Regions from separate parts of the Homo sapiens genome. Here all the other regions are linked to region 1. The links come from fine-mapping of genetic effects on gene expression. A gene starts in region 1. Each other region holds a variant in brackets. All regions are shown on one strand. Distances are between the middles of the regions. Region 1 holds the start of PTPN18 (protein tyrosine phosphatase non-receptor type 18). Region 2 has its middle 60 kb from the start of TUBA3E. Region 3 has its middle 13 kb from the start of TRE-TTC1-1. Region 4 has its middle 27 kb from the start of TRE-TTC1-1.

Evidence for each region. PIP is the estimated chance that this variant, and not a neighbour inherited with it, causes the effect.
Region 2: its variant is the best candidate, but not a certain one, in a credible set for the expression of PTPN18 in transverse colon (GTEx, PIP 0.87).
Region 3: its variant is the best candidate, but not a certain one, in a credible set for the expression of PTPN18 in whole blood (TOPMed, PIP 0.76).
Region 4: its variant is the best candidate, but not a certain one, in a credible set for the expression of PTPN18 in cerebellar hemisphere (GTEx, PIP 0.56).

The regions. Positions count from the first base shown.
Region 1 is chr2:130,354,175-130,358,342 of GRCh38, forward strand. PTPN18 (protein tyrosine phosphatase non-receptor type 18) reads left to right here and starts at 1,882. Exons shown (of 15, transcript NM_014369.4): 1 at 1,882-2,026. The coding sequence starts at 1,934. RefSeq lists silencers at 1,462-2,131, 2,272-2,321.
Region 2 is chr2:130,256,755-130,260,922 of GRCh38, forward strand. No RefSeq gene overlaps it. Among named protein-coding and RNA genes, the nearest start is that of TUBA3E, 60 kb to the left of the region's middle. The variant A/G (reference allele first, on the strand shown) is at 1,839.
Region 3 is chr2:130,322,160-130,326,327 of GRCh38, forward strand. No RefSeq gene overlaps it. Among named protein-coding and RNA genes, the nearest start is that of TRE-TTC1-1, 13 kb to the right of the region's middle. The variant T/G (reference allele first, on the strand shown) is at 1,666.
Region 4 is chr2:130,308,023-130,312,190 of GRCh38, forward strand. No RefSeq gene overlaps it. Among named protein-coding and RNA genes, the nearest start is that of TRE-TTC1-1, 27 kb to the right of the region's middle. The variant C/T (reference allele first, on the strand shown) is at 1,622.

The DNA.
Region 1 (4,168 bases):
GTCAGACAGACCTCAGCCTATGAGGACAGGCCCTCAACAGGATCCCTGCTGCTGGACAGAGATCCTCTAGCCCATAAAGACTGCCCTGAATAACCATGTGTGCTCAGGGGCTCACATTTTCCCAGAAAATGTCTTTATTTTCTGAAAGCTTACTGATGCTTCTGTATTCTACCTCCCTGGATCTCCATGGCCATCCACAAACCCTCAATGATTATACTGAGAGTCACTATCATGCACTGAGCAGAGCTCTCAATGACTTCCCAGACTCTTCGGACCCTTCAATTACTAACACTCCAAATCCCAATGGCCCCACAATTACTTTCACTTCTTGTCCCAAGTATCCACTGGCCTCCCAATGACTGTCATTAATATCTACTGACACCCCCCCCCCCATGAACATCCAAGGGACCCCGACTGGCTTCCAATGAATTCCCTATCACCACCATCCTAAACAATTACCTCCCTGAGAATGCTCAAAGATGAAACTGATAAATGATGAACATGAATCTCACAGTGACCCCTGCGGACCCCACGATAAATCAAACAGCCCTAGCTGCTGATCCCCACAGAGCCACTTTGATCGCTCCATCACTTCAGCCAAGGTCAGCAAACGACAGCCTGTAGGCCACACACACACACTAGAATAATTCATGACACATGAACATTACATGAAATTCTGATTTCTTTGTCCATAAATGGTTTCTTTGGGACACAGCCACACTATATTGTCTGCTTTCATGCTGCCACAGCTGAGTTAAGCAGCTGGGGCAGCGATAGCAAAGCCAAAACCACTTCCTACCGGGACCTTTAAGAAAGTGTGCCCTTAAATACTCTGATAGCCCCTAGTGAATTAAATTGACCACCTGACATCATGCCCCTGTTGACCCTTCAGAGACTCAGGCACACATCCAGGCCCCAATGCTACCTTTCAACCCCTCAACGACCTCAAACTGGTGTCCACTGACGCCCCTTCCAGTGACACCCCTCTTAATTCTTCCGACCTCGGCGAGAAGGGGGCTAACCTAGGCCTGTCCTTGAAGAGACCCAGGTGCCAGTCCATTCTCTCCAGCCTCCCCTCGGTGATCCCGGAAGCTGGAACGGCGGCTCTCCTCTGACCTCTGCACACTTTCTGAAGATGGGAGTGTCAGGGCAGGCAAAAAAGAGAAGCTCTTCGTTCCCCAGAACCCACTTCCAGTGCCTCAGTTCTGTTTCCCAGCAGGCTTGTGCAGGTCGAGATGCTCACACAGGACTGACCCTGGTGCCCCAGCGCATCCGGGAAAAAGGAACCACAAATTCCTCGGGAAATACACAGAGAAGATCCCGCTGCCACTTGGCCTTTCCCACGGCGTGGCTGCCCCTCCCCGGCCTCCCTTGGGCCCGGCTGGAGCGCACAGCGCGGGACGCCCCCGACCCGGGGTCCTCTGGCACGAGGGGCAGCCTGATCTCGGCGACCGTCTCCACCCAAGGCTGCTGCCCGCCCCAGCTCGGACTCCGCGCGGCCTGGCTCCCAGGGGACGGGCGGGAGGGCCCGGCGAGACCGCTCGGCCGTCCACCCAGAGCCGGCACCCGGAGGTCGGCCCCTGGGCGCGGATCCCGATCTGAGGGCGGGTCCCAAGCGGCAGGGAGCGAACCTGGGACCGTGCCACCCCCCCACCAGTGGGCGCGGCAGCCGAAAAAAAGGGGAAGCGCCGGCGCTGGACTCTGCTCAGGGCAGCCCGCGAGGACCTAGGGCTCCGGCCACAGCGGCCCGAGCGCCCGGGGTGGGGCTACGCGGGCTCAGAACACGGTGGCTGGGGCGCCCTGCCCGCCGCTGCGCGCTTCCATTGGCTGCCGAGGCAAGGGCGGGGACTCAGTCACCGGCCTCCGCCTCCCGCGGCGTCCACACTCGCCGCGCGCGCGGCGGCCGGGCTGGACCTTGCTGGCCCGCGGCGCCATGAGCCGCAGCCTGGACTCGGCGCGGAGCTTCCTGGAGCGGCTGGAAGCGCGGGGCGGCCGGGAGGGGGCAGTCCTCGCCGGCGAGTTCAGCGTGAGTGGCACACGGGGTCCGCGAGCGGCGCGCCCCGGCCCTGGCCCTGCGTACGCCTGTCCTCCGCGCACGGCGGGCTCTGCCTTTCTGTCTCGGTGTCCCCGGTGTCTCCCCGCCTCGGGGGGTCTCTCCGTGTTTCTCTCCCCAGCACTTCTCTGTCGCTCTTGCTGTCTCCGTCTTCACTCTCTGCCCCCCGGCCCCGGAGCGCGACGTCCACGGCCAGGCCGGGACGGACCGTGCACACCCTCGTTCCCGGTGTCCTCGTCGCGCTCCCGGAACAACCTGGCTGCGGGCGGGACAGGTGGGGCGGGCGCCGCAGGGGAGGGCGGGCGGCCCTGCTGCGCTGGACAGCCCCGGCCCCGCCGCTTCTGGCGACCTGACTGTCCCCTGTGACCACAGGAAGGAAGGGGCTGCAGCAGGGCGAAGAGGAACACGGAGGCTGTGGCGTGGTGAGGGTGTGAACGCCGGGCTCGAATCCGCGTCCGGGCCCGAATCCGCTTCCCGTCCCGAATCCGCGTCCCGGCCATCCGCGTGTGGTCCAGGCGGTCTACCTGGCCCCTCTGACCTCGGCTTCTCCCTTGGTGAAATGGGGACATGAATGACCAAACTGGTCTAAGGATTAAATGATGTGGGTGAAAAGCACTTAGTACATATTGGGCGCACACTTCGTAGGGGCGTTCGTCACTGCCTATAAAGATTCTAAACGTGGGCCAGGTGCGGTGGCTCACACCTGTAATCCCAGCACTTTGGGAGGCCGAGGTGGGAGGATCGCTTGAGCTCAGGAGTTCGAGACCAGCCTGGGCAACACAGCGAAACCCCGTCTCTACTAAAAATACAAAAATCAACTGGGCATGGGCGCATGCCTGTAATCCCAGCTACTAGGGAGCAGAGACAGGGGACTCGCTTGAACCTGGGAGGCAGAGGTTGCAGTGAGCTGAGATGGTTCCACTGCACAGCTGAGATGGTGCCACTGCACTCCAGCCTGGGCCACAGAGTGAGATCCCATCTCAAACAAAACAAAACCAAACAAAAAATCTAAACGTTACAATACAGGTAGTGCAAGCCCAGCATTAGGAAGGCTCACGCAGAATGCTAGGCACTGTACATTACAGTTGATGACGTGTTTAAAGTGTAATCGCTTATGTACCAGACATAGAAACATACCATACAAACGCATAAACTGATATATGGTGACATGTATCAAGTTTAGAAATATGACAAATATATAAAAGTATTATAAATGACCGTTTATACAATAAACATTGCATAACTGCATAAAACAATACAACAAATGAATATAACAAAGATTATAATTTATAAAATGACCAAAGTTATTTGATAAATTCATAAGTAGATATAAAATATGTAACAGATGGCCGGGCACGGTGGCTCACGCCTATAATCCCAGCACTTTGGGAGGCCGAGGCGGGCGGATCACGAGGTCAGGAGATCCACACCATCCTGGCTAACACGGTGAAACCCCGTCTCTACTAAACACACAAAAAATTAGCTGGGCGTGGTGGCGGGCGCCTGTAGTCCCAGCTACTCGGGTGGCTGAGGCAGGAGAATGGCGTGAACCCGGGAGGCGGAGCTTGCAGTGAGCCGAGATCGCGCCACTGCAGTCCAGCCTGGGCAACAGAGCGAGACTCCATCTCAAAAAAAAAAAAAAAAAAAGTAACAGATAATTATAAACCTAAGTAATTTACACACATGTAGAAACATTGTATATAAGAAACTAAGAAATGCATAATAAATGTAAAATATATAATTATACAATATAAGAATGTGTGTAACAAATGTAAACATAATACCCATGTGATATATGACATCATGCGACTGGGTGGGTTCTGAACCGTGTACAGTGCGGAGGGCCTCACATGCGGAAGGCTGGGTGGCGAGGGCACCCCTGCTCCCCAAGCCTGCCTCCCGCATGTGCAGGAATCACTGCGCTCTTCTAGGTGTTCCCACTACACAAGGGCATCATGAGGGCTTAAATGACCCAATGGACACAAGTAAAGCACTTAGAATAGTGGCTGGCACACAGTGGTGGCATGGGTGTTACTTATTATCATTGAGATTACGAATACCTGACGATGATGGTAATACACGATTCACTAATTATTATTATAATCTCCCAGTAAC
Region 2 (4,168 bases), 97 kb before region 1:
ATTCTGTCTGGTCAGTCACAACTCAATTCAAAACCCCATTCTGCCATCTGCTCACTATGTGACCCTGGGCACATTGATGAACTCCTAATCAGGCCTCAGTTTCCACACATGTAAAATTGTCATAGCAACCTTACTAGATTTTTTAAGGAAAATAAAAATAACATTATTGATAAATAAATGTAAACTATTTAGGAGAAACTTAGTTCAATTATGAAGCATTCGATGTGTTATGCTTTCCTCAAAGCTTCATGTTGTTCATGGTTTGCCCCTGCCTTGTGAAAGCTCCCTACTGAAGTCTCAGCCCTCTGTTCTAAACTGCTCTCTTCTCCACCCTAAAAACAACAAGAATTTTAAACCTCTGTTAAATCTCTAAAAATTCTAAGATTAATTCCTATTAAAATGGTAACAGCTATTAAAATTTAATACAGGCTAAGGATCCCCTTACCTTGGGACCAGAAGTATTGTGGATTTGGGTTTTTTTTTTTTAAGACTTTGAAATATTTGCATATACATAATCAGATATGTTGGGGATGTAATCCAAGTCTAAACAGAAAGTTCATTTATGTTTTGTATACACCTTATACAAATAGCCTAAAACTAATTAGATAAAATATTTTAAATAATTTTACGCATAAAAACAAATCTGACTGCATTTTGACTGTGACCCATCACCTAAGGTCAGGTGTGGAATTTTCCACTTATGGCATCATGTCAGCACTCAAAAAGTTTCAGATGTTGGAGCATTTCAGATTTCAGTATTTTGGATTAAGATGCTCAATCTGTATGTTACCCTGCCTAGGATTTTTCTGTATCTAATGGTAGAATCTAATGACTTTGAAAAGACAAGGCAATCATTTCCCCTTTGTCAGTGAAGAATATATTTTTTTCTCTCTGAAGTTGAAATCACACTAGGTAAACATTTACCCGTCCATGTGTAACTCTAACATGGCCACATTATTGAGCACTTACCTGCCTAGAGTCAGCTATTGAATAAGTATATTAAGTCTGCAGAAGGCCGAAATACGCACATTTAGATGGACTAGGGCTACAGGGCAATGGGCTTTGGACATTTTGCTTTATAAAGGTAACAGATTTGACTCTGCAATTTCATCACTTTCATTATTTCCCTATTGTCTGAAAATATCCATTTCTGCCGATTCCTTTTACTTACATCAGCAACACTGCAATAATACAACTCAGAGAACCTTTCAACATATTCCTTTTCTTGTATAAGGAGTGGAATCTTTCAAAACAAAATAATAACTTTAAATTGTAGAAGTTTATGTACTTAACTTCAGATGTTTTCAATTATAATGACTAGTGATATTCATAGTAGAAGCACATAGTTTAAAGGGCTAAGAATTGATTTGAAATATGTCAGAATTAGAAAGAAAGGTTAATTTGTTTTGAACCAACGTGTCGTGGTTTAGGTAAGTGTTTCTCAACCTTGGCACTCTTGATGTTGGGGCTGAATGATTCTGTCGCTAGGCAGCTATCCAGTGCATTGTAGAATTGTGGCAGCATCTCCAGCCTCCACTCACTACACAGCAGTCCACCAGTAGCAGCACCCTTTTGTGACCACCAAAAATGTCTCTAACTATTGTCAAATGGTACGTGAGAGTGAAATTACTCGTTGGTAACCACTCATTTTGTTTTGGCATCCTTACAGTTGACATGTATCATTTTCTTGCTCAGTATTAGAAGCTTCTTGTACTTCAGGAACATGTTACATACTTCTTGTCAAGTTTCCATTTGTTAAGTGTTTCCACAGCAACACTTAACAGGCAGCTGCCCTTGGCAGTATTCCTTCACTGAGAAGAATAAATGGGAGCTGCCCC[A/G]GCTCCATCTTACTCTTATTCTCCTTTTCTTCTACTCATGCTAACTTCTTTCGACTACTTGCTCACCCTTCATGGGATGGTTCCTATTTATTCATGGATTCCATTGCCTAATAGCTTCTGCTTCAGTCCTTCCTATTCTGTGCCATTATTCTTAACTTTGCTATTTATCTCACTAAATTCCCCACTAGATAGTGCATTTGTCTTTACTGAAGACACAGAAAATTCTTACCAGGCCACTCCACAGACTTCAGGTCTGCCTTTAGAGGAAGGTCCTTCAGAACAGAATCCTGTTTGACTGGCTAAAGTCATTTTTAAGAAAACTGTTGTCATTTCTTTTAATATGAACCCAGGTCAAGGAAGGCATGCTGAGTTGTGGAGGTATAGGATGTTATTCCAGGCAGGCACTTTCCCTCCGTTATGTGATACAGATGAGATTTGAGCATTACCTTTTTGTCACTTGAAATTATATCTTACAAAAATACAAACAGATAGAGCATATACAGATACACATTAGAAAGGGTGAGGGGAACAGATACAGAGGAAGGAGGAAGAGAGACAGAGAGGGAGGGAGGGGGAGAGAAAGTGGCTTTGTGTGGAGCCAAGATGGTAACATGCCGAACTGAGAGGCATGAGAGAGAGAGACAGAAAGACACAGAGACAGAGAGAAACAAACAGACACAGACAAAGAAGGGGTTCCAGGAAAACAACAGGGCACTAAGACCTCAGAACTTTCATGCTACAGAGAAAAGGGGTCAATGCTGGCTCATTATCCAAATCCTGATTTCAAAGCAAAATACAATTAAAGTGGATTCAGAGAACTCGTGACCAGAAACATGAAGGGACCGTCTAACACCTTAGTAAGCCAAGACCACCACAATCCTGGAACATAAACACAAAGAACTCAATATATGCTTGTTGCAAGAAGAAAGTTAAAAAAAAATTGTGCCAAGGCCTGTGCTGAGAAAGAAGGTGGACACACCACCATCCTCAGGGAGCTACTTCTGAACACTCCTGGCAGAGTGAAACAGTCACTGTCAGTGATCAGATTAAAAATTACTTCATTATAATAACTGGACTTGTACCCTCCTCAACCCTCCTCCTTTGTGAATGCAATCCAGTTCCTGGACTTGCCTCACTGCCTACAAAGAAAACAAAAACAACAACCTCCTCCAAGTCCCCCACTGGGTACAACGTGCGCTCTGCAGCTTGGCTTTCTGAAATCACACAGGAAGGCACCTGCATGCATGTTTTTCTAGAGACAGCCCACGGCTTTCCTTAGGTTTCCCAAAGGATCTATGACCTGACCCCAAAGGTTCAGAATCACTACTTTTTAAAACACCCATTTGTGAGTATGTGCGGGAATGTTGTTGCTTCTCTTTTCTTCTTTGTATGTTGGCAATTGTCAGTGATGAAAAAAAAGAAATGGTTTCTAAGGAAAAAAAAATGATCCATATTCTCTAACAAGGAGTGTTAAAGGAGACCCCCCCAGATATTAGGACAGCAATGAGGGACCATGTGTGAAGTTGACAGTTGGATGCTGTCCACGAGCGTGGGGCCAACACTGACAATCACAGCAGGGAGGCTTCCCCAGGAGAACTCCCTTCATCTCTAACTCCTCCCATATATGCAAACTCCCAATGACAGCTGCCCAGAATCCTGCTTCAAGGCTATAGTGGATGCCACGGTTGACCCCTTCCTTTCCAGCCCTGACCACTGTGCTGTCACCTTACAATGTGGGGCATGGGGGTGGTATGGAGCAAATCTGACCTCAGCTCCAGGTGTGGACCCTGATGGGTTCAATTTGTCTCCCCTGCCCATAGTCACTGGTTCAAATGATCCAGGCTTAACCTGATGAAAAGTTGGCAAAGTCCTGGACAAAGGGATTGGTTTAGCTTTGAACATGGGGCTCAGTTTGGGCCAATGCGACTTAAGGGGAGGGGTATGGGAAAGGGGGTTTTACAATGGGAAACAGGAAGTGTTTGGCATGTAAGACTGAACCTGCTGCAGCCATATGCCCATGCTCCAGGAAGCCAGGCTCAGGATGAAGTCAACACCAAGGCAAGCAGAATCACAAAATTCAAAGAAACTGAGGTCTCAGTGATACTGTGGAACCACTGGTCGAACTGACCCTAAACCTGCTCTGCTTCTCATCCTTTAAGTTATCTGAACCCAGAAATGTCCTCCACTGTTTACCCAGGTGGAAGCGGTTTCCTATCATTCACAAAGGAGTCACAAACAATATGAAGTCCTAACTAAAACAGAAAGGATGTTCGTGTTAAAACACAAAGTTGAGGCTGGGCATGGTGGCTCATGCCTGTGATCCCAACACT
Region 3 (4,168 bases), 32 kb before region 1:
GAGACTCTCTTTCTCAAAAAAAAAAAAAAAAGTATCTGTATAAATAGGCATTTGTGTTTTCTTCTGGTAGTTTTCTCATTTTGTATATTTAAAATTTTTAATCTATATTCCACCAGGAACCTATTTTTGTGACATAAAAATCAGCTAGTTTTCTCCAAACAGCAGGCATTCCATTTATGAATAATTCATCTTTTTCTACTAATATGAAATGTCACCATTATCAAGTTCTAAATTATTTCATATATATGGGTGTTTCTGGATTTTCTAGTCTGTTCCATTCATTTATGTCTTTCAGCTGTTAGTAAATGACTTATAGAAATTAATGGCACATTTTGATATCGAGGAAGGCAAGTCATTTTTCGTTGCATTACAAAAAAATTTTAATGTCATCATAACAGTAAAAGACAGCAAGTGTAATTTTTAAACGTTAAAACTTTGGTGTTTTTATTTGGTTTAGGCAAAATTGATAAATACAGAAAGAGCTCACATCTTGAGAAAATTCTTTCTATTCAAGAACATGAACCATCTTCCCACTTTCCTTCTAAGGTTCCTCAGTAAAGTATATATTTACATAGGGGTACGTGGATAGAAAATGGATATTGGATTTTATCTAAAGAATTTTTAGCCCAGAAGTTGATACATTATGGGAACTATTTCTCTCATTATACACTTTTCTATAATGTGAATAACATGTTTAAAAGTGTATACCTTAAAAATATTATATAGACAATTCTGTGAGTTAAATCACTTTAAAATTGTCTCTAAAGTGCACTATAGGGAGATTATGGGTGCACTGGAAACCAGCTAAAGTGTTGTTTTCATTTTGCTGCTCATAGAGAGACCCAGGCCTTGACTCCTCTGAGGCTTCCACATCCCAGGTGCTGCGGGCCCTGCTTAGCTGTATTCCTAGGTATTTTATGTTCTGTGTGTGTGGCTATTATGAATGTGATTGTGTTCTAGATTTGGCACTCAGCTTGAACACTATTGGTGTATAGAAATGCTTATTATTTTTGTAAATTGATTTTATATCCAAAAACCCTGCTGAAGTTGTTTATCATACCTAGGAGCTTTTGGGGAGATACTATGGAGTTTTCTAGGTATAAAATCATATCATCTGCAAACAGAGATAAATTTGACTTCATCTCTTCTTATTTTAGGATACCTTTTGTTCCTTTCTCTTGCCTGATTGCTCTGGCTAGGACTTCCGGTAGTATATTGAATAGGAGTGGTGAGAATGGGCATCCTTGTCTTGCTCCAGTTCTCAAGGGGAATGCTTCCAGCTTTTGCCTGTTCAGTATGATGTTGACTGTGGGTTTGTCATAGATTGCTGTTATGATTTTGAGTTATGTTCCTTTAATGCCAGTTTGTTGGCGGTTTTTAACATGAAGGGATGCTGAATTTTATCAAAATCCTTTTCTACCTCTATTGAGATGATCATGTGGTTTTTATTTTTTGTTCTGTTTAGATGGATGAATTACATTTATTGATTTGCATATATTGAACCAAACTTGTATCCCAGGGATAAAGCCTACTTTATCATGGTGAATGAGCTTTCTGATGCGTTGCTGGATTCAGTTGGCTAGTATTTTGTTGAGGATGTTTGCATCTATGTTTATCAAGGATATTGGCCTGAACTTTTCTTTTTTATTGTGTCTCTGCCAGGTT[T/G]GGGCATCAAGATGGCACTGGTCTCATAGAGTGAGTTAGGGAGGAGCCCCTTCTCCTCAATTTTTGGAATAGTTTCAGTAGGAATGGTACCAGCTCTTCCTTATATGTTTGGTAGAATTCAATTGTGAATCAATCTGGTCCTGGGCTTTTGGTAGGCTTTTTATTATTGATCCCATTTAAGAATTCATTATTAGCATGTTTAGGGTTTGAGTTTCTTCCTGGTTCTCTCTTGGGGAGTTGTATATTTCCAGGAATTTACCCATTTGTTCTAGGTTTTCTACTTTGTGTGCAAAGAGGTGTTCACAATAGTCTCTGATGGATTTCTGTATTTCCTTGGGGTTGGTGGTAATGTCCCCTTTGTCATTTCTTACTGTGTTTATTTGGATATTCACAAACCACTGTTCATTGAAATAAAAGAGGATACAAACAAATGGAAGAACATTCCATGCTCTGGGTAGGAAGAATCAATATGGTGAAAATGGACATACTGCCCAAGGTAATTTATAGATTCAATACCATCCCCATCAAGCTACCAATGACTTTCTTCACAGAATTGATAAAAACTACTTTAAAGTTCACAAATTTCATATAAGCATTCAGTCACTTCATATTTTTGGCTAAGGTTGATGGTGGTTTTTGATAACTGTGGGAGTTTTTTTTCAAAATAATACAAAGATTCCTTTTTTTCTTCTTGGGAATTCTGTTTAACAGCCAGTTTCTCACATTTCCTCTCTAATTTGTCTCCCTTCTTCTACCATTTTATCCCACTTCTGCCTCTTTCATCAACTGGTTTATGATTTCTAAGAGAGTTACACAGAAGTAACAAGCATCTCTGGTTTAAGAACAACAGGTTGTCAACATGCTCCAGGACAACAGTAGCAAAATATATGAGGTTAGAGTCTAAAATCATTTCTGCAGAGCAGAAAAGATGAGGAAGCATAAAAGATAAGCACATTTAAGTAAAATTGTTCACTTATATATAATTCTTCAGTAATAAAGGGCAACCACAGAGACGTTCTCACTATACATACATCTCCCTCAGAATCCATATAATCCATGCTTTTTTGCATTATAACCATTTTTATTTAAATATAGACCCTACTCAGTAGACACCCATCTACTGAAACATAAAACCATCTCCTTTTAATTTGCTCATTTGGTAGATTCACTGGACAATATATATCTAAGGAGAGAAATATAATATCTGGAATATATATATGTATATATTGGACACATATATAGAGAGAGAGAACATAAGATCTGGAAAATATTAAAGGTTTTTTCATTTCTTTATAACATGAAATACTCCATTTCATTATTTTTAACTCCAAAAAAGTCTGCATCTGATTGCTAATGGTATATCAATTCACCTTAAAAATTCCATTTAGGTGTTCAGTAAACAAAACCCAGAAATACTACTTTCTTCCTAAAGGAAAGCAAAAAAACATGATCATCCACTTTAATTACATGGTCTCTATCACATAATTTATGGAACCTGTGGGTTTTAACTGTGCAAATTTGGTGTAAAAAAAAATTGACATGGATGAGATTACTAACTAGAGGTCTTTAAGATGAGTTTGATTTAACTGCTGCTGCTTCTGCTTCACTCACTATAAGTCCATCAACATCCTCTTCTAGTCTTACAGTTAAGTCTGAAGGCTTTCAGCATTAAGAAATATATATACAGGGCCAGGCGTGGTGGCTCACACCTGTAATCCCAGCACTTTGGGAGGCTGAGGTGGGCGGATCATGAGGTCAGGAGTTCAAGACCAGCTTGGCCAACATGGTGAAACCCCCATCCTTACTAAAAATACAAAATTAGCCGGGTGTGGTGGTGCACACCAAAAATCCCAGCTACTCAGGAGGCTGAGGCAGGAGAATCACTTGAACCTGGGAAGCAGAGGTTGCAGTGAGCCAAGATTGCACCATTGCACTCCAGCCTGGGTGAGAGAGCAAGACTCCATCTCAAAAAAAAAAAAAAAAAAAGAGAAAAGAAATACATATACAAAAGACTCGTGTAACTCTGTGTCCCATAAGGTTGAATTCTAAGAGACTTTCATTAGTAATAAATGTATGCAATATATATGATTTTGAACCTAAATGACACTAACTGGTTGAGCAAGGATAAAGTGCTTCTTCTATGAAACCAATCCAGAAGACCTTAGAATTTCACATGCTAGAGATCTTAAATTTTCACTCATTTGACAGATCCTTCTGTGTGACAGATACTCTTATCCTGGGTCACAATCTTGCCTTATATTTTTTTTCTTTTTCTTAAAAAGAAGTCAGACTTTCCCCTACAGGAAGGCATTCCACCAGTCTTTTTGAGATGGAGTCTCACTCTGTCCCCCAGGCTGGAGTGCAGAATGCGATGGCACGAACACAGCTCACTGCAACCTCCTCCTCCCAGGTTCAAGCGATTCTCCTTTCTCAGCCTCCCGAGTAGCTGGGATTACAGGGGTACACCACCCTGCCTGGCTAATTTTTGTATATTTTTAGTGGA
Region 4 (4,168 bases), 46 kb before region 1:
TCCTATGATACGTTATGAGAACAGAATGCCCTGAGTAGTTGCTGATCCTTTAGCCTGGCTGCAGAATGAATCCACAGGGAACAGACATGAACCAAGCTCTCAGCCTGGAGCCAAACCAGCTTATTGGTCATGTAAAACAGGAGTGACTAGCTGAGTTCAGCCCTAGAGTATTCTTGTCCTAAAATATTCCAAGCTGGAATATTCTCATAGACCTGAAAATATGAGAAGACATAGTTGTTGAAGGCCAGTGGTTTACCACACAGGACTACATTTCAATTGACAACAAATATTTATTTTTTTACCTGCTTTTTCCCCTCTCTAAAGCTATGAACAACTGAAGGGCAAAGACTGTCTCTCATACATATAAGACTACACCTTCTTGGCCGGGCACGGTGGCTCATGCCTGTAATCCCAGAACTTTGGGAGGCTGAGATGGGCGGATCACAAGGTCAGGAGATCGAGACCATCCTGGCTAACATGGTGAAACTCCGTCTCTACCAAAAAAAAAAAAAAAAATTAGCCAGGCGTGGTGGCGGGCGCCTGTAGTCCCAGCTACTCGGGAGGCTGAGGCAGGAGAATGGCGTGAACCCGGGAGGCAGAGCTTGCGGTGAGCCGAGATTGTGCCACTGCACTCCAGCCTGGGCGACAGAGCAAGACTCCGTCTCCAAAAAAAAAAAAAAAAAAGACTACACCCCCCCACATCCAACATGCAATTTGGCATCTTAGAGAGTGCCCTATGTGTGTTTAAAGAAAGAAGGGAGGGAGAAGGAAAGAGAAGGAGGAGGGTAGAAGAGAAGAAGGCAAGGGGAAGGAAAAGAGAAAGGAAAGAAAGAAGGAAAGAATGATGATATTCTTAGTAAAGTGCCCAAGCCTTTGTTAAAATAGCCTTTCATTGGTACTTGAATTTAATGATTAAACCCCATGCCAACAAAACTGTCAGAAAAGATACAGAAAGGAAGAAATAAAGTGAAAAGTTACCAAAATGACCATAAATCAACCTAAATTCATTCCAGAAAGACTGAAACTAGGCTACTTCACCATCTTCAAGGCTGTCCAGGTCCTACAAAAATGAAGTTACTTCTAGCAGTGGTTGGACATCAATTGACACAATGACATCTACTGAAGAAGACGAAGAGGGTAATCAGAGAAGAGTGGGCAAGAGCCGTGAGGCAGAGATTCTTCTGGGGCCACAGCAGTAACCATCGCGGACATGATCTCCTGCTTCCCTTGCCTATCCTGCCCAGGTGGGGATGATTGACATTGAGTGCCATACGTAAAAGTTGAGTGGGCATCAGTGAGAGGGAATTTATGACAAACAGCAGGTGTGTTAAAGTCAGGATTTCATACTTGCTGATGATTTGGCATGAACTATCTTCCTTAAGCCTTCTCGTTTGTAGAAATAATTTTTACTTTTATTTTCATCTTTCCTGACACCTTAGGAAAGACAGCACCAAGTTCAAATTTCTGATCCAAAGGTTTTTCAGTTTTCAAGACTGTACTTTATCCAGACAAGGAAGATAAAAAATTATTCAAACTTTCCTTAGAGGTTCCCTAATAGCCTCCCCAATGGCTGCCCAGTCTCCCACCCAAATACCCTTCCTAGGTAGGGAGAATAATGTGT[C/T]GGCAGCTGTGGAGACCCCTGCCTTCTGCTGTTCTGGACAGGGGCTGCTTGCCCTTGGTATACCCAGCAGGTCCAGGCAGCAATGAATAAGAACAGGGATTTCAGAGAGTGTTCTATTTGGGTTTGAATTCCAGTATTGCCATTTACTTGATGATTGACCTTGGCAGGTTATGTACCCTGGGCTTCAGTGTCCTTACCAGTAAGTATAAAAGCACCTGCTCCTTTGGTGCCCATTTCCCATTCCTCTTCTTCTGGTGCTGGCACCCTGACCCTCTTCAATGTGACATGCTGCCTCTACACCTTTGGCCTTCTGCACATGCTGTCCCTTTGCCTTTCTTATACTCCCTTTTCTAGATACTCCAAACCTTCCCATCCCACACTCCTCTCACTGGCTTCCTCTGCAGCAGACTCCTATTCAGTGCCAGGATCCTGCCTCCTTCAGGAAGCCTCCTCTCCTCCACTGGACCATACGTTCTGTGAGGAAGGAACAACATCAGTCCTGGGCAACAGTGCCCAGCATAGGGCCCTGAAGCATTGCAGATCCATATTCATTGTTTCTGAAAGAATAAGAAAGGAACAATTCTGGAATATGACTGTAGGTTTTGTGTGTGTGTGTGTGTGTGTGTGTGTGTGTGTGCGCCTGTGCGTGCATGTGCATGCAGATATTTGGATTCCATGGCGATCCTCCCCAAGATTCTGGCAATAGCACAGATGTGGATACCCTCTTCTCAGCTTGGCCTGGCTTCTCATCTCCTTCCCGCTGCCTTTCTTCACTAACAATCTATTCCAGGTAGCCTTCTTCTCTAGCATGCTCCTGTTTCTCAGCTGGGGCTCCTGCTCTCCATTCCCTCTGCTTTGTTACGCTAGTGAGTTGTGATGTACACATTGGAAACTTCAGGTACTCTCTTCAACCCTATTCTAAAAATCCTAGAGCTGGAGCTCATCAAATAACAGCAACAGCTAACACTTAATTGGTCTCTGGCTATGTTCCAGGCACTTTCAAATGTGTATTCCCTCCTTGAATCTCCACACAACTCTCCATGTTAGGTAGTATTATTACCTTTATATCCCCAGTTAATAGACTATGACTCTAAAGGCCAGAGAGTTTAAGCATCTTGCCAAAGTTCATAAAGCTAGCAGGTGGTGCGGCTAGGGTTCCACATGGTTTATCAATCGTCTGTACTATCTTTTGTGGTTTATCAATGGTCTGTACTATCTTTTGGCCAAAAGAGTGGACACCTTGCCCCCTTCTTCCACCATTCAGTCTCTCATCTTGTTCCTTGCAGTTTTCAAAGAGCTTAGGTTTGATACTCATACCCTCAATGCCTTTTCTGGCTCTATTTTCTTCCAGCTCTGTTCTGCTGCTAGATACTTGACAATGTCTCTCCAGTGTCTGACCTTGACCTGTGGTTCAGACTAGGGGAATCCCAACCTGGTTTTTGGCTTCTGTTTAGAACTTGTCTGGCCTGGTGTAACCCTGGCAGTCATTCAACTCAAGGTCATGGCTATTCTCTGTCACAGTTCCTCCTTTCTGACCCTTTGGATACCAAATCCACTTGCTTACACTTATTATACCTCCATCCCACCCATTAGAATTGGGAATATCTGTCTATGGCTTCTATGCCCCTCACTCCCTCTGGATTCCCTGTATAGGCACCCTTTTCCCTGCCAAGTGTCCTAAGCAAACATCACAGACTCTGAGTCTTATTATGAAAAGAGCAATTATTATAGAAATAAGAGATTACCATCTGCCATGTACTGAGCAAAGGGGTTTACATATATTAACTCATCTGACCCTCCCATTGGCATTCTGTGAGATGGAGGTAACACAATTCTGTATTAAAGGTGAGGGGGCTGAGATTCAGAGAAGTAAAAGAATGGCATGTTTTAGGCTGGGCACGGTGGTTCACACCTGTAATCCCAGCACTTTGGGAGGCTGAGGTGGGCAGATCACGAGGTCAGGAGATCAAGACCATCCTGGCCAACATGGTGAAACCCCATCTCTACTAAAAACACAAAAATTAGCTGGGCATGGTGGCACCTGCCTGTAATCCCAACTACTCGGGAGGCTGAGGCGGGAGAATCACTTGAACCAGGGAGTTGGAAGTTGCAGTGAGCTGTGATCGTGCCACTGCACTAAAGCCTGGTGACAGAGCAAGACTGCATCTCAAAAAAAAAAAAAAGCATGTTTTATGTGGCAGAGCCTGGTTTAAACTCCCAACCCGTAAGACTCCCAAGTCTGTGCTCTATGCTACCATCATCTGAACCCAAACAGACCCTTGCACTGGGGTTGGGCTCCCCTTCCTCTCCTGACCTTTCCTGCTGGTTCCTCAACTCCAACCAGCATCATCTTTCCTCTGATGTCATCTTCTGTTCTTTGACCACACCCTTCCATCCTAAAGGACATGGTCTGAGGCTTCTTCCAAATTCTACTGCTAAAGTGTCTCTTATTTCTGTGAAGGGACAAACTAGAAATGACAGAGTAACAAAGGAAGGGAAGTGGCTGTTTCCAGAAACTCCTGGAGGTTTAGGCCATTGCCTGTGCCG